Homo sapiens: one gene and its partner. The protein of the gene in region 2 purifies or fractionates together with the protein of the main gene of each other region. This does not show direct contact. Each region holds a gene or a part of one and is shown on either strand. Other genes may lie near its edges.

Evidence for each region.
Region 1: the proteins of UBTD2 (region 2) and SMR3B purify together in Homo sapiens (affinity purification with mass spectrometry; 3 studies listed by BioGRID and IntAct, with this or other methods). This does not show direct contact.

Annotation. Positions count from the first base shown.
Region 1 is NC_000004.12:70,377,863-70,386,460, reverse strand, and holds the start of SMR3B (submaxillary gland androgen-regulated protein 3B precursor), read right to left. Parts: upstream 3,331-8,598; 5' UTR 3,249-3,330; intron 1,965-3,248; 5' UTR 1,951-1,964; coding exon 1,897-1,950; intron 1-1,896.
Region 2 is NC_000005.10:172,280,186-172,288,501, reverse strand, and holds the start of UBTD2 (ubiquitin domain-containing protein 2), read left to right. Parts: upstream 1-4,737; 5' UTR 4,738-4,836; coding exon 4,837-4,906; exon of another isoform or gene 4,907-4,910; intron 4,911-8,316.

The DNA of each region.
Region 1 (8,598 bases), on a different chromosome or scaffold from region 2:
TTTGTGTGTGTGTGTGTGTACATATACACACACACGTAAAGGACATGCTACCCTTCATATTTCCAACATTCAATAATTATTAATCATCATGAATCTCATATAATTAAGTTGGGGAAAGGTTGATTTCCATTTAAACTGCTTATGTTATCAGAAAACTATCTTTTTCTTTTTTCTTTTTTTTTTTTTTTGAGATAGAGTCTCACTCTGTCACCCAGGCTGGAGTGCAGTGGCACAATCTTGGCTCGCTGCAATGTCCACCTCCCGGGTTCAAGCGATTCTCCTGCCTCAGCCTCTGGAGTAGCTGGAATTACAGGTGCATGCCATCATGCCTAGCTAATTTTTGTAATTTTGGTAGAGACAGCGTTTCACCATGTTGGCCAAGCTGGCCTTGAACCCCTAACCTCAAGTTACCACCTGCCTCAGCCTCCCAAAGTTCTGGGATTGCAGGCGTGAGCCACCGTGCCTGGCCCAGAAAGTTATCTTTTTCAAATTAATCTTATAAAAAAAAATTTATATAATAAAAGCCTGATACTTTGAAATTATAAATGTTTTTCTTTTGTATTCTGAGGGAATAAAAATATTGAAAATAAGCTTTATAATCAAGCCATTAAGATATTACCTTTAAAATATATCAATATATTTTATTGGTTTATTAAAAATTATGTCAACATATAATGCTCTCAGTAATTTAGCCAAGGTCAGACTACCTCAGTAACCTTAGAATTTCCTGATTTTGTTCCTTTTTGAAAGTAGATGAGGCCGGGCACGGTGGCTCACGCCTGTAATCCCAGCACTTTGGGAGGCCGAGGCTGGCGGATCACGAGGTCAGGAGATCGAGACCATCCTGGCTAACACGGTGAAACCCCGTCTCTACTAAAAATACAAAAAAATTAGCCGGCCGTGGTGGCGGGCGCCTGTAGTCCCAGCTACACCGGAGGCTGAGGCAGGAGAATGGCGCGAACCCGGGAGGCGGAGCTTGCAGTGAGCCGAGATCGCGCCACTGTACTCCAGCCTGGGCGACAGAGCGAGAGTCTGTTTCAAAAAAAAAAAAAAAAAAAAAAACAAAGTAGATGAAAAAGGAATTATTTTATGTTTCATGTTTCAGAATGATGTAAATTTATGTTGCTTGATTTGTGGAAGTCATAATCTAAAAAAAACAGCTTTCATATTTTTCAATTTGATATAGATTTTATAGTACTTTGGTGGAAATTACTCTGGAATTAATATTCTCTTTCTGTCACTGGAATTAATCTAACACTACTTTGAAATCGAGTATGATTCTACTACTTTGAAATACGTGTGTTTTAAAAACATTTTTGTAATTTTGTATGATATTTAGTATCTCATTTGTCTTTAACCTGGTTTTGTATACAAAGTAGCTGTTTATATATAAATGCTTAGCATTCTCCCAAAATTTAGCATGCAAAGATACTTGTAGATCCTTAGTAAAATGCATCTTTCCAGGTCCCATTATCTGATACTCTTATTGAAGCTTGGATGAGGTCTTTACTATATTTTTAATAAGTGAGTTAGGTGACTCTGGTGTAAATGATCCATAAACTACATGCTGGGAAAACGGTTTTATTTTGATTATCTATTTTTATAGAGTTTTACCTACTGTGTAACTGACTAGAGTATGGGAACTTAACATTTATACGTATCTGTTTAATGCAGTCTGATACCACAGACTTGAGCTGTCCAGTATGGCAGCCATCAGACATGTGTGGTTATTTAAATTAGATTTTAAATTTAAATTTAAGCCCTAAACAGTGTTTCATTGATGATTAATAGTTACTAATATATAAGAAAAGGTAACATCATTAATGTAAAAAGAAATCTGAAGTAATGGTTAATGAGAAACTATAAAGAAGTGTGATCGTGATTAATGATACTTACTGTGAAACACGCTGCAAGAGCCCAAAGGCCCAAGATCCAAGTCAGTGATTTCATCCTTTCAGTTGCCTCTGAAAGTAAGCACAATAGGTGATCAGTATGATTGTTTTTTATTAAAAAGTACTATTTAAAATGTCTCAACACTTGGATATAATGTAATACAAATATCCTACTATAGCATTTTTAGGGAATTTGCCTAATGTTATTTTGAATTCAGTATTACTGTGGGGCAATATTAGTAGGCTTATAAAATTTGACTTCAAAATAGTGGAAGTAGTTTTTATTTTTGACTTGTAAACTGATCCTGGGGATAATGCCAAAGAGTTGTTCATACATTGCTCTGAGCAATAGAAGCTTTTATGACTAAGGTTTTTCCCTTAGAAGTAACTACTTTAAAATGTATACTTATTTTCATTTGAACATTTTGATATTTTAAAAATAGTAGATACATTATAGATTTCTATGGATGGGTTTGAGATATTAACATTTTAACTAGATCTTATGTTACAAATTTTATTGCTTGGAAGAGCTTAAAAATAAGGAAAAAAAAAAGGAATCACCCTGTTGGATATAGTCTAAAAGAAGAGTCACATAATATATTTCCTAGTTTTAACAACATTCTATTACATTAATTTAGGCTGTGATGAGTGGTCTCAAAGTGCTTCCAAAAATCCATATATCAGAGACCAAGGCAAGAACATGGAGATGTCCAGGTATTCTACTCTCAATTGGGTCAAATTTTACAATATATTTCAAGTACATGATAGCTTGATTTTTGGGAAAGCAACTCCATACACCATGGTGCAAATTGGCTTCCTGTTAGTCAACTCTGCACATAGGTTGAGTGTGTGGTCTGAGCAATGCAAGTCTTGAAAGAATCCTATGGACAAAATTTCACTGGATATTCAATTATATATATGTGGGTGTGGCTATTCCTTTAACTAGTACTTTTCCTATATCCATTCTTAAATTAAGTTTGAAAAACAAAAGAAAAACCAATAATAAAAATATTCTGTAGAGCAATTCTGTCTTTTAGAGTACACCTGAGACTATTCTATCCTTATGAAGTTTCAAGAACTTTAAGGTACATCAGGAGGAAAAGTCAATTGTGTACTTGGATGGACCGATTGGCCCAAATGCCCAACATGAATGTTTTACTCTGACCTGTAAAAACCAGAATTTTTCAAAATTTATTGCATTTAATGACTTACAATTTCATGTAAGCTACTTATGTTTTTGCTGATAATGAATGTTCTATGAAAAGCCCATAAAATGTTATCGTTGAAAATGTTATCTTTGAGAAAAATTTCAATATTCAAAGTAAAAATATTCAGTTTATATTTCCAAGTACCTACCTTTGTGTGAGGATCTGTCTTACAGTTGATTAATCTGCTGGTCAAAATGACTCTTGCCAGTTGAAAGACGGCAAATAAAGGTGAAAAGGGACAAGAAATCTTAGCTCTTATATATTGTAATGGATTTCTGTTGGCAATAAGAGAAAGGCTATTCGGAAATAAAATAACTTCCGAGTTGATGCTCTTCAAAGATAGGAAAGTTGTTCTTGCCAATTTGGCAGTCTTTTTCTGGATTTTTTTTCATTCCTGAAAAGCATTGACCTGTTCAACATTTGCTGTTTCCTGAGGAAACAGATACAACAAATCATAATATCCTATCACCTCAGAAAAACAATCTGGGGCCTGTGGTGCACCATTTCCTCTTTATTTCAAAGGAAAAGCTGGCACGAGTTTTTTCTGTTCCAAGTGATTTAATGGGCCATCTTTTGTTATTTGCTAGTCTCATCATATTTTCTATTTTATTTCAAAGGCCTCCATATGTGCGAAATACAAATATTTTTAAACTGAATTCTAACATGATCAGGAGAACCTAGGGGAACAAAAATGATAATTAAAATTAAAAGTGCCTAATTAAATAAATATTGCTAAATACCACACACACACACATGCACGCAGGTACGATGCATGGCCAGTAATGTAAAGAATATCTAAAATTTCACTTGACTGTTTTGATCACTTTGCTATATGTTGTGGGTTTCATGTTTCTATTTTTTGGTTGAAATAATGAAATTGTATTATTGTTTTGTGCTTGAAAGTTTGTATATATCTTATCCTATGTATGGTTTTTCACAGTTGTCTTCATTGAGTAGATGTTTCTGAAGGATGATGAAAATGAGTGCTGCTATTAAGATTTGGATCTAAGTTTCAAAAAAGCAGGAAAGAAAAATCTAGTGGTGGAAGAGGGATAATAGTCAGAAGGTTCATGCAGTTTCTCAGTCTTAACTATATTTCATTTCTTTGTGATTATCTTAAGTTAGTAGACTATTTACAAGACCTTATATATGCATTTTTTAGGAAGTTCCTTTTGCCAGTGAAGAACTAAATGAGAACAACTGTGTTTTAAAAATCATGTGGTCCTTGCCATTATTAACTTGAGACATTTAATTAAATAAAAATATAATGACAAGCAAAATTTTTGATTATGGCAAAATTATACGGATATCTTGACTTTGAAGTGGATGTCTAATGGAAAATTACAGCCTTGTTTTTTTGATAAATCTAGGCTTTGAGCATAATTTTTCCTAAGCTAGATGATCCTATAATCTGTAGTTTTGACACATTATTATTTAATAATAACAGCTATTACTTATTAAACCTTTAGCATATTCCACGTGGCAGGATAAAATGAGTTCTATTGTTATCTCTGTTGTACACATAGATGACATAGATGCTAACTAGCTAAGTGGGGCTTGACCTAAGTCTTCCCACTGAGTGAAGACCTAAGTCTCCCTACAGGGGCCTGAGTGAGTTTTTAACCAGCATTCCATGTTGCTCCCCAAATCTTAATAATCACCATACACTTAACTAACTTTATGTTACAGTACACTGTAGAGATGAATCAAGTGAACTTAATAGTCAGGTAATTCTACTTCAAAGCCAAATACCAACAATTCTTTGCTGGGTTATATGAGACAAGCTATTTTATCTCATTGTGTTTCAATTTCTTCATTTGAAAAATGTGTATATTTATAATTTTTAGGTCATGAAGTTTACAACCAACCTTCCTTTCTCCCCTCCCCTCCCCTCCCTCCCCTCCCTCCCCTCTCTCCTTCCCTCCTTCCCTCCTGCCCTCCTTCCTTCCTTCCCTCCCTCCCTCCTACATTTATTGAATATCTGCTGGGTACAAGACATAGTGCAAGTTGCTGAATTTACAGCATATCTAAGTGCTTAGTGTTTTAAAAATCCTTTGTGAGGTGGGATAGCAATAAAGAAGCTGCACTTCCAGAGTTGATGTTAGTTTTGAATGACTCTTCTTAATTTCATTTACTTTGTTGGAGTTTCACTGCCTTTAAAAAATTCTGATGACTTAATTAAGTGTAATACAATATACTCCTGGTTTGCTAATCTTAGCCCTTAATATGTTGCTGAATGATTACATGCCCCAACATCAGTGAAGATGGTTCTATTCCTAATTAACATAGAAATTTCCACTTCTTTCTTTGATGATAATTCAGTTTGTCAAAAGCTGAATATCTCTTCTTTCTTGTTTTGATGCCAACATATTCACCAGCCAAATGTCTGAAGTCAAAGTGGGATCTACATTGTAATGGATCATTGGCTCTGAGGGATTTAGGATGAACGCTGGCAAAACCGAAAGACAATTTCTGAGTGGTTTGTGACCAGAAAGAATCTGAGGAACACAAATAAATGGAAGCACACATCTGTTAAGAAACAGGAACAGTCACTCAAATTAATCTTTAATTAACTTATGGCTTTAGAAGATCCTGACTCAATACTTACTAGAACAATATATAAAAGAGCTAATGTCTCTGGCCACAGGAAATTAAAAAAGTGACAGTAGAGAAAAATTATTGTTAGTGCAGAGATTTACGTGACAGATGGAAAATATTTTCTTAATAGAGGTAGATTAGCAGAATTAAATTCAGTCATGCAGCAACATATTTGAAGTCTGATTTCCTGTTGTATTATACTCATTTCCACTGAAATATAGCAATCATCATAGTTTCTTTGGACCTATGAAAAGTATGTGCTTCTTCTTGATTATCCAGAAGGAAGTGATATTGTTTCTGGGATAATGCCACCTGAAATACTTATCATGCTTTAGAACTTACAGATTACCTTGAAAATTTCTGTGGAAATATTGTTGTGTAGGATATCAATAATGCCATTGAGCTCTGAGAGAAAATATGTTCTCTTGGATTGAAGTCTAGCATGATGAAATGTAATTAACAATAGAACTTGTAGACTGAAGAAAAGTTAATATCTCTAACTTGTGCAGCATGGATGCTTCAAGAAACCCACATCACATAGGTCTGTAAACTTTCTGGAAGTTGACAACAAATTTGCCCTGAGATTCCAAGTAGCCAAAGTTGAAAAAGAAAGAAATCAGGTAAAACATTTACGATGTCCATAAAATATAATCATGGTAATTTCTTGAGAAAAGTAGCTTTGCTTTCCACTGAGAGTCATGGGAAAATTTCCCAATAGTTTTAAGCAGAAGGTCTATTTTTCTATAGTAAATGCCAAATTGGTCTTTGTAGTATAACCGGGATGTCCCCAGACTGTGAATGTAAACAAAGATACAATTGCCCTTTAATCAGAATTTTGCTAGATTGATAACCTCAACCATGTAACCACATAAATTCAGTTCCCCTTTCAAAATCTTTTTGGGGAATATTCCTGGATTCATCTTAATTCTAAAAATATATTTTCTTTGCTGTAATATTATTTTTACCAAAACAAATCTAGTCATACACATGTTTTCTCTGTAAATGACATCAAGTACTTTAAAAATTTTAAACCATTAGTGTAATACATTTATTGTATAGTAAATCATGCTATATTTATTTTCTCATTGAATATTCAAGATAACTGCAAGACATAGGAAGATGTTAATGTCTTATTTATTTATTTATTTATTTTTGAGAAGAAGTCTCATTCTGTCACCCAAGCTGGAGTGCAGTGGCATGATCTCGGCTCACTCCAACATCTGCCTCCAAGGTTCAAGCTATTCTCCTGCCTCAGCCTCCTGAGCTGCTGGGATTACAGTCACGAGCCACCATGCCTGGCCTATTTTTGTATTTTTTTTTTTTAGTAGAGACCGGGTTTCACCATGTTGGCCAGGCTCGAACTCCTGACCTTCAGTTATCCACCCACCTCAGCTTCCCAAAGTGCTGGGATTACAGGCATGAGCCACTGTGCCTGGCCAATGTCTTAGTGTTTTAAATGAAGAAAGAACATCAGAGAGGGGCAGAATTAATACTAAGATCATGTTGGGCTTGTATAATAAAGTTATTACTAAAATTTATATATAGTCTATTGGTAAGAATTTGTTACTTAAAAATGATGAGGGACTCTAAAAATGAAATCTATTGAAAATAATGAAGGATTAAAAATGTTTAAAAAATGAAAGATACACATATTCTAACCTAAAAGTTAGTACAAATGCCTTAAATTACAGCTTTATATTTTGGAGTAAAACAGTGTATTGTTCCCTGAAATGGAAATGAAAAGACCTCAGTTCCAGAATTGACTTTGGTAAAACGAATGACTTATTTTACAATGAACTGTGATTTCAGGTGTTTTAAACTTTTGATATTTGACAAACATTCCAAAATCAAATTATAAATTATGTCTTTTTCTGACCTAATTAATCTTTTACGATATCAGATTCCCTAAAGTCCAAAAATGACATAATTTGGTTTATTTGGTATAAAAATTATACAAGAAATGTCACGCGCTTCCGTGTGAAGAGAGTCCAACAAACAGGCTTTGTGTGAGCAACAGGGCTGTTTATTTCACCTGGGTGCAGGCGGGCTGAGTCCGAAAAGAGAGTCAGCAAAGGGTGGTGGGATTGTCATTAGCTCTTTTTTTTTTTTAAATTGTTATTATACTTTAAGTTTTAGGGTACATGTGCATAACATGCAGGTTTGTTACATATGTATACATGTGCCATGTTGGTGTGCTGTACCCATTAACTTGTCATTTAGCATTAGGTATACCTCCTAATACTATCCCTCCCCCCTTCCCCCACCCCACAACAGTCCCCGGTGTGTGATGTTCCCCTTCCTGTGTCTATGTGTTCTCATTGTTCAATTCCCACCTGTGAGTGAGAACATGAAGTGTTTGGTTTTTTGTCCTTGTGATAGTTTGCTGAGAATGATGGTTTCCAGCTTCATCCATGTCCCTACAAAGGACATGAACTCATCATTTTTTATGACTGCATAGTGTTCCATGGTGTATATGTGCCACATTTTCTTAATCCAGTCTATCATTGTTGGACATTTGGGTTGGCTCCAAGTCTTTGCTATTGTGAATAGTGCTGCAATAAACATACGTGTGCATATGTCTTTATAGCAGCATGATTTATAATCCTTTGGGTATATACCCAGTAATGGGCTGGCTGGGTCAAATGGTATTTCTAGTTCTAGATCCCTGAGGAATTGCCACACTGACTTCCACAATGGTTGAACTAGTTTACAGTCCCACCAACAGTGTAAAAGTGTTCCTATTTCTCCACATCCTCTCCAGCACCTGTTGTTTCCTGACTTTGTAATGATTGCCATTCTAACTGGTGTGACATGGTATCTCATTGTGGTTTTGATTTGCCTTTCTCTGATGGCCAGTGATGATGAGCATTTTTTCATGTGTTTTTTGGCTGCATAAATGT
Region 2 (8,316 bases):
GTGTTGGCGGCGGGTGGCGGGTTGGCGGGGGGGAGGCGGGGGGAGGTGGGAGGATTGCTTGAGCCTGGAAGGTTGAGTAACATGGTGAAACCCCATCTCTACTAAAAATACAAAAAATTAGCTGGGCATGGTGGTGCACACCTGTAGTCCCAGCTGCTCGGGAGGCCGAGGTGGGAGAATCACTTCAACTGCGAGGTTGCAGAGAGCTGAGATTGTGCCAGTGCACTCTAGCCTGGGTGACAGAGGGAGACTCCGTCTCAAAAAAAAAAAAAAGAGAAAGGTTTGTGGTCGCCTAGGGCTGGGGTGAGGTAGGGGATAGAATGAAATGGGGAGTGACTGCTAATAGGTACAGGGTTTCTTTTTAGGGTGATAAAAATGTTTTAAAATTCATTGACTATTGATATTTAGTAAATATACTAAAAACCATTGACTTGTACAATGTAAATTGGTGAAGGGGTGGGGGTGGATGGGGAAAAGGGAGATATTGATTCCAGAGTAGAAAGTTTCAGTTAGGTGGAATAGGCATTAGTGACCTACTGCACAGAATGGTGACTATAATAATGCACTGTATACTTCCGAATCGTTAACAGAGTAGATCTTAAATGTTTTCACCACAAAAAAGAGAAGCACGTGGACGGGGCGCAGTGGCTCGGGGCACGGTGGCTCACGCCTGTAATCCCAGCACTTTGGGAGGCGAAGGTGGGCAGATCACGAGGTCAGCAATTTGAGACTAGCCTGGCCAACATGGCGAAACCCCATTTCTACTAAAATTACAAAAATTAGCTGGGCGTGGTGGCAGGCGCCTGTAATCCCAGTAACTTGGGAGGCTGAGGCAGGAGAATCGCTTGAACCCAGGAGGCAGAGGTGGCAGTGAGCTCAGATTGTGCCACTGCACTCCAGCCTGTGCAACAACAAGACTACGTCTCAAAAAAAAAAAAGACAAATACGTGAGGTGATGGATTTGTTAATTAGCCTAGTCATTCCACATTGTAAACATGTATCTAAACATCACACTGTGACCTCATAATACAGTTATTTGTCAATTAAAAATAAACTGGTGAAATACATGGTATATGAATATCTTAATAAAGATACTATAAAACAGTAGAAAAGCACATGTGCACACACACACACACACACACAAAGAAGGAATTGTTTTGATAGAAAGTGCTATGCAGTCAGTTTTTTTTTTTTGGAGTCAGTCTTGCTCTGTGGCCCAGGCTAAAGTGCAGTGGTGCTATCTCGGCTCACTGCAACCTCTGCCTCCCAGGTTCAAGTGATTCTCCTGCCTCAGCCTTCCGAGTAGCTGGGATTACAGGCACACGCCACCATGCCCAGCTAATTTTTGAATTTTTAGTAGAAACGGGGTTTCACCACGTTGGTCAACCTGGTCTCAAACTCCTGACCACAGGCGGTCTGCCCGCCTCAGCCTCCCAAAGTGTTGGGATTATAGGCCGAAGCCACTGTGCCTGCCTGCAGTAAATTTAGATAGATGATGCTAGACATGAAATAAAGAGTTGATGAAAAGCCCCACAGAGTTTGGAGCATTATTTTTGGCCCAATTTTACAGGTGAGGAAACTGAACTCCACATAAACTTTTTTTTTTTTTTTTTTTTAGATGGAGTCTCACTCTATCGCCCAGGTTGGAGTGCAGTGGCAAGATCTCAGCTCACTACAACCTCCGCCCTCCGGGTTCAAGCTATTCTTCTGCCTCAAACTCCCAAGTAGCTGGGACTACAGGTGCGAGCCACCACGCCTGGCTAATTTTTTTTTTTTTTTTTTTTTTTTTGAGATGGAGTCTCGCTCTGTTGCCCAGGCTGGAGTGCAGTGGCGCGATCTCTGCTCACTACAAGCTCCGCCTTCCGGGTTCACGCCATTCTCCTGCCTCAGCCTCCTGAGTAGCTGGGACTACAGGCGCCTGCCACCACGCCCGGCTAATTTTTTGTATTTTTAGTAGAGACGGGGTTTCACCATGTTAGCCAGGATGGTCTCGATCTCCTGACCTTGTGATCCGCCTGCCTCAGCCTCCCAAAATGCTGGGATTACAGGCATGAGGCACCACGCCCAGCCTAATTTTTGTATTTTTAATAGAGATGGGATTTCACCATATTGGCCAGGCTGGCCTCCAACTCCTGACCTCGTGATCCGCCCGCCTCGGCCTCCCAGAGTGCTAGGATTACAGGCATGAACCACCGTGCCCGGCCAAACTTTCTTTTTTCTTTTTTTGAGACAGGGTCTCGCTCTGTCACCCACACTGGAGTGCAGTGGCGCGATCACAGCTTACTGTAGCCTCCACCTCTCTGGATTCAGGTAATTCTCCCACCTCAGCCCCCTGAGTAGCTGGGACTACAGGCGCTCACCACCACGCCCCGCTAATTTTTAAAATTTTTTCGTAGAGACAGGGTCTCCCTATGTTGCTCAGGCTGGTCTGAAACAGCTGGGCTCAAGTGAGCTTCCCACCTCAGCCTCCCAAGGTGCTGGGATCACAGGCGTGAGCCACCATGTCTGGCAGAAACTTCAGACCATATAGCTAGTACACGATGAAAGCCAGATTCCAATCCAGGAAGTTAATCGCCAAGCTGGGGCCCTGACTGCGACACTACTCTGCCTCCTGGGAAATGTGTCTCTAAGATAAAGGCAGGGTGGAGAACATCTATTGCTGAGAATCTCTCCCCGAGATTGCTCTCTCTTCCTAGTGCCAACTCCTCAGTGCTCATCGGAGAGCCCTCATCATTTGGGTGCCTACCATCTGTTTAATAGACATCGTGGAAGTCTTGGTTTCTGCAATTTCTAGAGTGAAATTCAGGACAAAGCAATCTCTTTGCAAATATTCGGCATGCAGCTTCTCTTCTTCAGGGAAGTGATGAAGTGATGTGTCTGCCAACGTGTATAGTTAGTTGAAAATGATCAGACAGAAGGCTTTGTGACACAGCCCCTGATGTCAGAGCAACCTCTGAAAACTCATAATAACATCGATGGCATAAGCTCTTTTTGGAATGTTCAGGACCACAACTGAGGACAATACTAATTCTTCAGGATGAGTTTAATATAGCAGATTTCTATATCTCACGACATTTCTGTGTTTTAACCTAAGTGTAGGTTTTGCTTGTCTACTGTCTTTTTATCAAATGAATACAGAGATCTAAATCTTTGTATAATAGCTTGATCTATTTCTGTGAGCTAGATTTCCAGATGTGGAATAATCCCGAGTCAAAGGATATGAACATTTTTAAGGCTCTTGATCTGCATTGCCAAATTGCTTTGCAAAAAAGATTGAACCAATTTACACTCCCACCAGCAATGTATGAGAATATATTTAAATGCAAATCCCAAGCTGCAGAGCATCTCTTTCTTAGGTATTTCAACTTAAAAAATTTTTTTTCGTGCTAAGCAAAAGCTGACCCAGGATGTTAAAAAAAGAAAGTCTGATATAAAAATGGAGCAGATAGTTAAAACAGCTTCTTAGGCAGAAATAAGCTTTAGAAAGTCCCAAGCAGGATGATAACAATTTTAAGGCATCATAGCACGAAGCACAATTCTAAAGGGACCATTAACAATTTGGCTGAGATTGGAAAAGTAACCGCCAAGAATGTTGGGCGTGGTCAATGTCCCAAATTCTAGATTCGAAAAGGCAGGGTGTTTCACTCATTTACACTTCACTTTGGCCTAAGGACGATTTAAGATACCCAAAGGCAGGATCTTGATAAGTAGTATTGTTTGAATCATTAATCCCGTGAAAATGAAAGAAACCCACGCCCCCTGAACTAAGGTCAGCGTTTATCTCTTCTTTCCAGGCGTTCCATCAGGACGCCTCGCCTCTAATCTCAGTTTGGTTTGCCACAACCACTGCCTCCACCCCTAATAATGGGGCCCCATGATTTTAGGGAAGACGGGGGTGGGCAGGCAAGAGGAAGCCCAGATTCGGGGTACCAACCCACGGAGCGCCATACAAATTCAAAGGGCGCTGGGACCTCAACGTTCGGCCAGGACACTCTCCCCCGAGCCCCCGTTATTTGGGAAACCGCCCCGTCCCCGCCTGCGAGTCTTCCACGACTACTTCTCGGTTCCCCCGTGCGACCCGCTTCCACCAGCAAGAAGGAGCCGACGGCCGAGGAGCCAGGAACTCGATTTCGCCCCTTCCCACTCCTCTTTTCTCACTTTTGTTCGGCTTTTTCCTGCTTTCCCTCCCTTCTTCCCTCTCCTTTCTTCTTCCCGTCCTCCCTCTCTCCTCCTCCCCTCGCCTCCAGTCCTCCCCCCGCCTGCAGTCCTCCCCCCACCTAGCCCCCTGCGTCCCCTCCCCCGCCTCACCCTCGCCCCGCTCCGCTCGCAGCCCCGCCCGCAGCCAATCAGAGCGCGGCCTCCGGTGGCCCCGCCCTTCTCCGGCGATTCCGGGCGGGCCGGGCCGAGCCCAGGCCGTGGGTGCGGAGGGCGGCGCCGCGGGCCGGGGGCCGATGGGTCCTGGCGGACGCGAGGCGCCGGCGCGGGGCTCGCCTGGACTCGGGTGTGCGGGGCTGTGAGGGGGCGAGGCGGGCGCTGCGGCCCGCCCGGGATGGGCCAGCCCTGGCCTGGCGGGGCTGAGCCGAAGGCGAGGGCGGCGCGCGGGCCAGGCCTGCCGGGCGGGCGGCCCGGGGGTTGAGGTAGAAGTGGGCGCGGAGGAAGGGGCCGAGCCAAGGCGGTGGGTGGAGCGGCGAGGGGGGCGGAGGCTGGGCCGCGGCGGGCGAGCGGAGCGGCGCGCCTGTCCGGAGCTCGGCGGTGGCGCCGGAGGAGGCTGCAGCGGCGGCGGCGGCGGGCCCGGACGAGCGTCCGGAGGTGGCGGACGAGGCGCCGGGGGCCCCCATGGGCGGGTGTGTGGGCGCCCAGCACGACTCCTCGGGCAGCCTCAACGAGAACTCGGAGGGCACCGGAGGTAGGTGAGCGCCAGGGGGCAGCCTCGGCCCCCCATTGTTCCCGGCCAGGCCCGGCCACCTGTCCCGACCCCCGCGGGCCGCGCCGGGCCCCCGCGCCCCTTTGTCATCCCCTCTTCCACGTCATTCCCCGCGCTCCGCTTCCGGCTGTCCTGCCAGCCGCGGGGGTCGCCCCTTCCCGCCCCAGCCCTGAAGAAAAGTCCTCTGAGCGCCGGGGACGTAGCCCTTGGCCTCGCCGACCGCCCCGCTCGGCTCGGGGAAGTCGGACCCGAAGCTGCCCTTCTGGCCACCTCACTCCCTCTCCAGGCCGTTTAATTATTGAGGATCAGGATGGCGGCGCCGGGGTTGCAGAAAAGCGAATTGATGGCGGGGGGAGGGAGCTTGATGCGTTCCCTCCGACGGGCCCCGCCACATCTTTCCGCACCCTTCCTTGTTCTGTGGAGTTGGCTGGTCTCAGCTTTCCTGAGTTTCAGATGACAGCTGCCCCGGTTGGTTCCAGATTGGCCATTTAAACCTGCGAGTTTCTGGAGCTCGGCTGGAGGAGTCTCCAGTGGCCGCAGGCATTGTATTAAGGAGGGGTGGGGAAACGGTCTTCCCGGGTAAAACGTGGCTCCTAGCTAGAGCTTGGGGGTGTTAGGCCGGTGTGCTGTCGGGGTGGGCTAATCACATTCCCATCTGTCTTACGTAGAAGGAAAATATGTAGGATAAAAGTACAAGTGCAGTTGGACCCTGACTTACCCCACCCAGTAAGATCAGTACTTTAAAAGTTTTCTAACACGGGAACGCACTCCTACTTTATAGTAAAAGCGTGCTGAGGATAGGTATTTTAATTCAATCAGTAGTAGTTGTAGTATGGCAGTATAATAATAAAATTAGTTCTATCTTTATTTAAGTGACCTTTGGTTACGTCCATTCTGTAGAATATTTTAGTGATAAACAGCCTTTAGGCAAAGATGACAGCGTTGGTTTGATTTGTGACCTAATGTTAGCTGCCTTAAAATGTGCATGTCTGTAAATTTTTAAATTGTTTGGGTATGGGAGGGTTTACAACTTTTTCGTAGCATACTAACATTTAGACCAGTTGCTTGCCCTGTCACTTAAGCTCTCTTCACAAACCATGTACACCTAAGTTTTTTGGCTAATGGATTTCCTGAATTCCATGATGGTTAGCCATGCCACTTTATTAAAATCTGTGGGTATCCTGTATGACTAAATCCTGGGTAAATAACTTGAGAACTCAGTGGAAGTTGTCTTGAAAAAGTCCATGAAAATGCTACTTTATAGTGTATTTTATGTCGTAGCATTATTACTGGCATATTGAGATCCTCAGTGACAACAAAGCAGGAAGATAAAAAGGGCACGATTTAAAACAGCCTTGGGTTAAGGTGAAATTGAAGGATCAAAATGAATCTTCCTCTAATTGTGTTGATCATTAATGATTCTGAAATATATTAGTATTTGTTATCGCTAGTGTTTAGTTTTAATTAAATTTTTTTCACACTCATTTTAATATTGTCATAAGCATTTTGCTCTTCTCCGTAATGTATGTGGATTAATTTATTTAAGCCTTTTGGTAGTGTGACTTATGACCAGACAGGCATTATTAATATGGGCTTTAAAAAGCGTGAAATCTTAGCTTTGGGTAATTTATTACCGGTGGTATCCAGTTAGATAGCTATAGTATCAGTTTCTTTGAGGACTGAGTTCTCTGGACCGTAAGCTCTGCTGTACATGAAGTTTAGAAAAAGGAACATTAACCACCAAACGTCTTTATTTTCTTTTGGAGAGAGGACATGGGCCCTGATGTAACTGGGGTCAGGGAAGAGGCTCTTGTACTAAAAGGATTATTTCTGGAATTTGATTATGGACGCTTTTATTCTCCATTATTGTCATGATAATTAAGAGTTAATTGTGGTTTAGTGAAATTAACTCAGGTGTGTTGCAGGTTAACATATAAAAAAAATTATTGCTTAATAAGTAGATTGTTGGGAAGGGAAAGACTTTTTCCTAAGGGTGTTGGCACAGATCCCTAGCTTTTCAAACATACTGTGGTAGTGAGTTAGGTTTGGGGGATGTGTGGAGGGCTTGGTTTGGTTTCTCGAGACAGGTTCTTGCTTTATCGCCCAAGCTGGAGTGCAGTGCCAGATCACAGCTCACTGCAGCCTTGACCTCCCAGGTACAAGTGATCCTTCTACCTCAGCCTCCCAAGTAACTGGGACCACGAGGTGCATGCCACCGCACCCGGCTAATTTTTAAAAAATTTTTAGTAGAGGTGGGTTTTGCCGTGTTTTTAATCTGAATGTGTTGGGTTATGAAAGTTGTTTTATCAACATGGAGTCTTCACATGCTTCTTACAACGGATTTAAACTTTCCATGACAGATTTAATTACATTCACCAACCAGGCGGGGTGGCTCATGCCTGTAATCCCAGCACTTTGGGATGATGAGGCGAGAGGATTGCTTGAGCCCCAGGAGTTGGAGACCAGCCCAGGCAACATAGTGAGACTCTGTCTTTAAAAAAATAAACAAAATAATTACATTCACAGTGTTGTGCAAACATCACCATTTTAGAATAGCTTGACCCTTTCTAAATATCAGCCAGCCTTAGTAAGAAAAAGATTTTAAAAAAATCTTTTGACCATTTGAAATACTATACTTTCCTTTTTCCCTCTGAATCCATCTCTTATGTATGCAAGTAATTATGTGTATATCAATAAAACCTTCCTTATTAGGTGTATTCTTTGAAGGAATTTGGGAGATTTTTATAAGAGACTGTAGAATATGGAAGTGGCTTAATTCACATTATAAGCTTTGCATTATCTATTGTTTTGGGATTAATTGTTGTATTTTCCTTTGGCATATACCTTGCCTAGAATTTAGTTCTTGAGCTCCAGCTACTTAGGCTTTTTTCAAATAAAAAAACTTTTATTTTTATATTTTGTTATTGAGATAGTATCTTGCTCTGTCACCCAGGCTGAAGTACTGTGGCATGATCATAGATTACTGCAGCCTTGAACTCTTGGGCTCAGGCAGTCCTCTGGCCTCAGCCACATGAGTAGTTAGGCTGGTTTTTTTTTTTTTTTTTTTTGAGATGGAGTCTTGCTCTGTCGCCCAGGCTGCGGTACAGTGGCACGATCTCTGCTCACTGCAGCCTCTGCCTCCCAGGTTCAAGAGATTCTCCTACCTTAGCCTCCAGAGTAGCTGGGATTACGGGTGCCCACCACCATGCCCAGCTAATTTGTTGGTATTTTTAGTAGAGACGGGGTTTCACCAGGTTGGCCTGGCTGGTCTTGAACTCCTGACCTTTAAGTAATCCGCCCACCTGTGCTTCCCAAAGTGTTGGGATTACAGGTGTGAGCGACTGTGCCCAGCCTTTTTTTTTTAATGCCTACTTTTAATCAAGACAGGTATG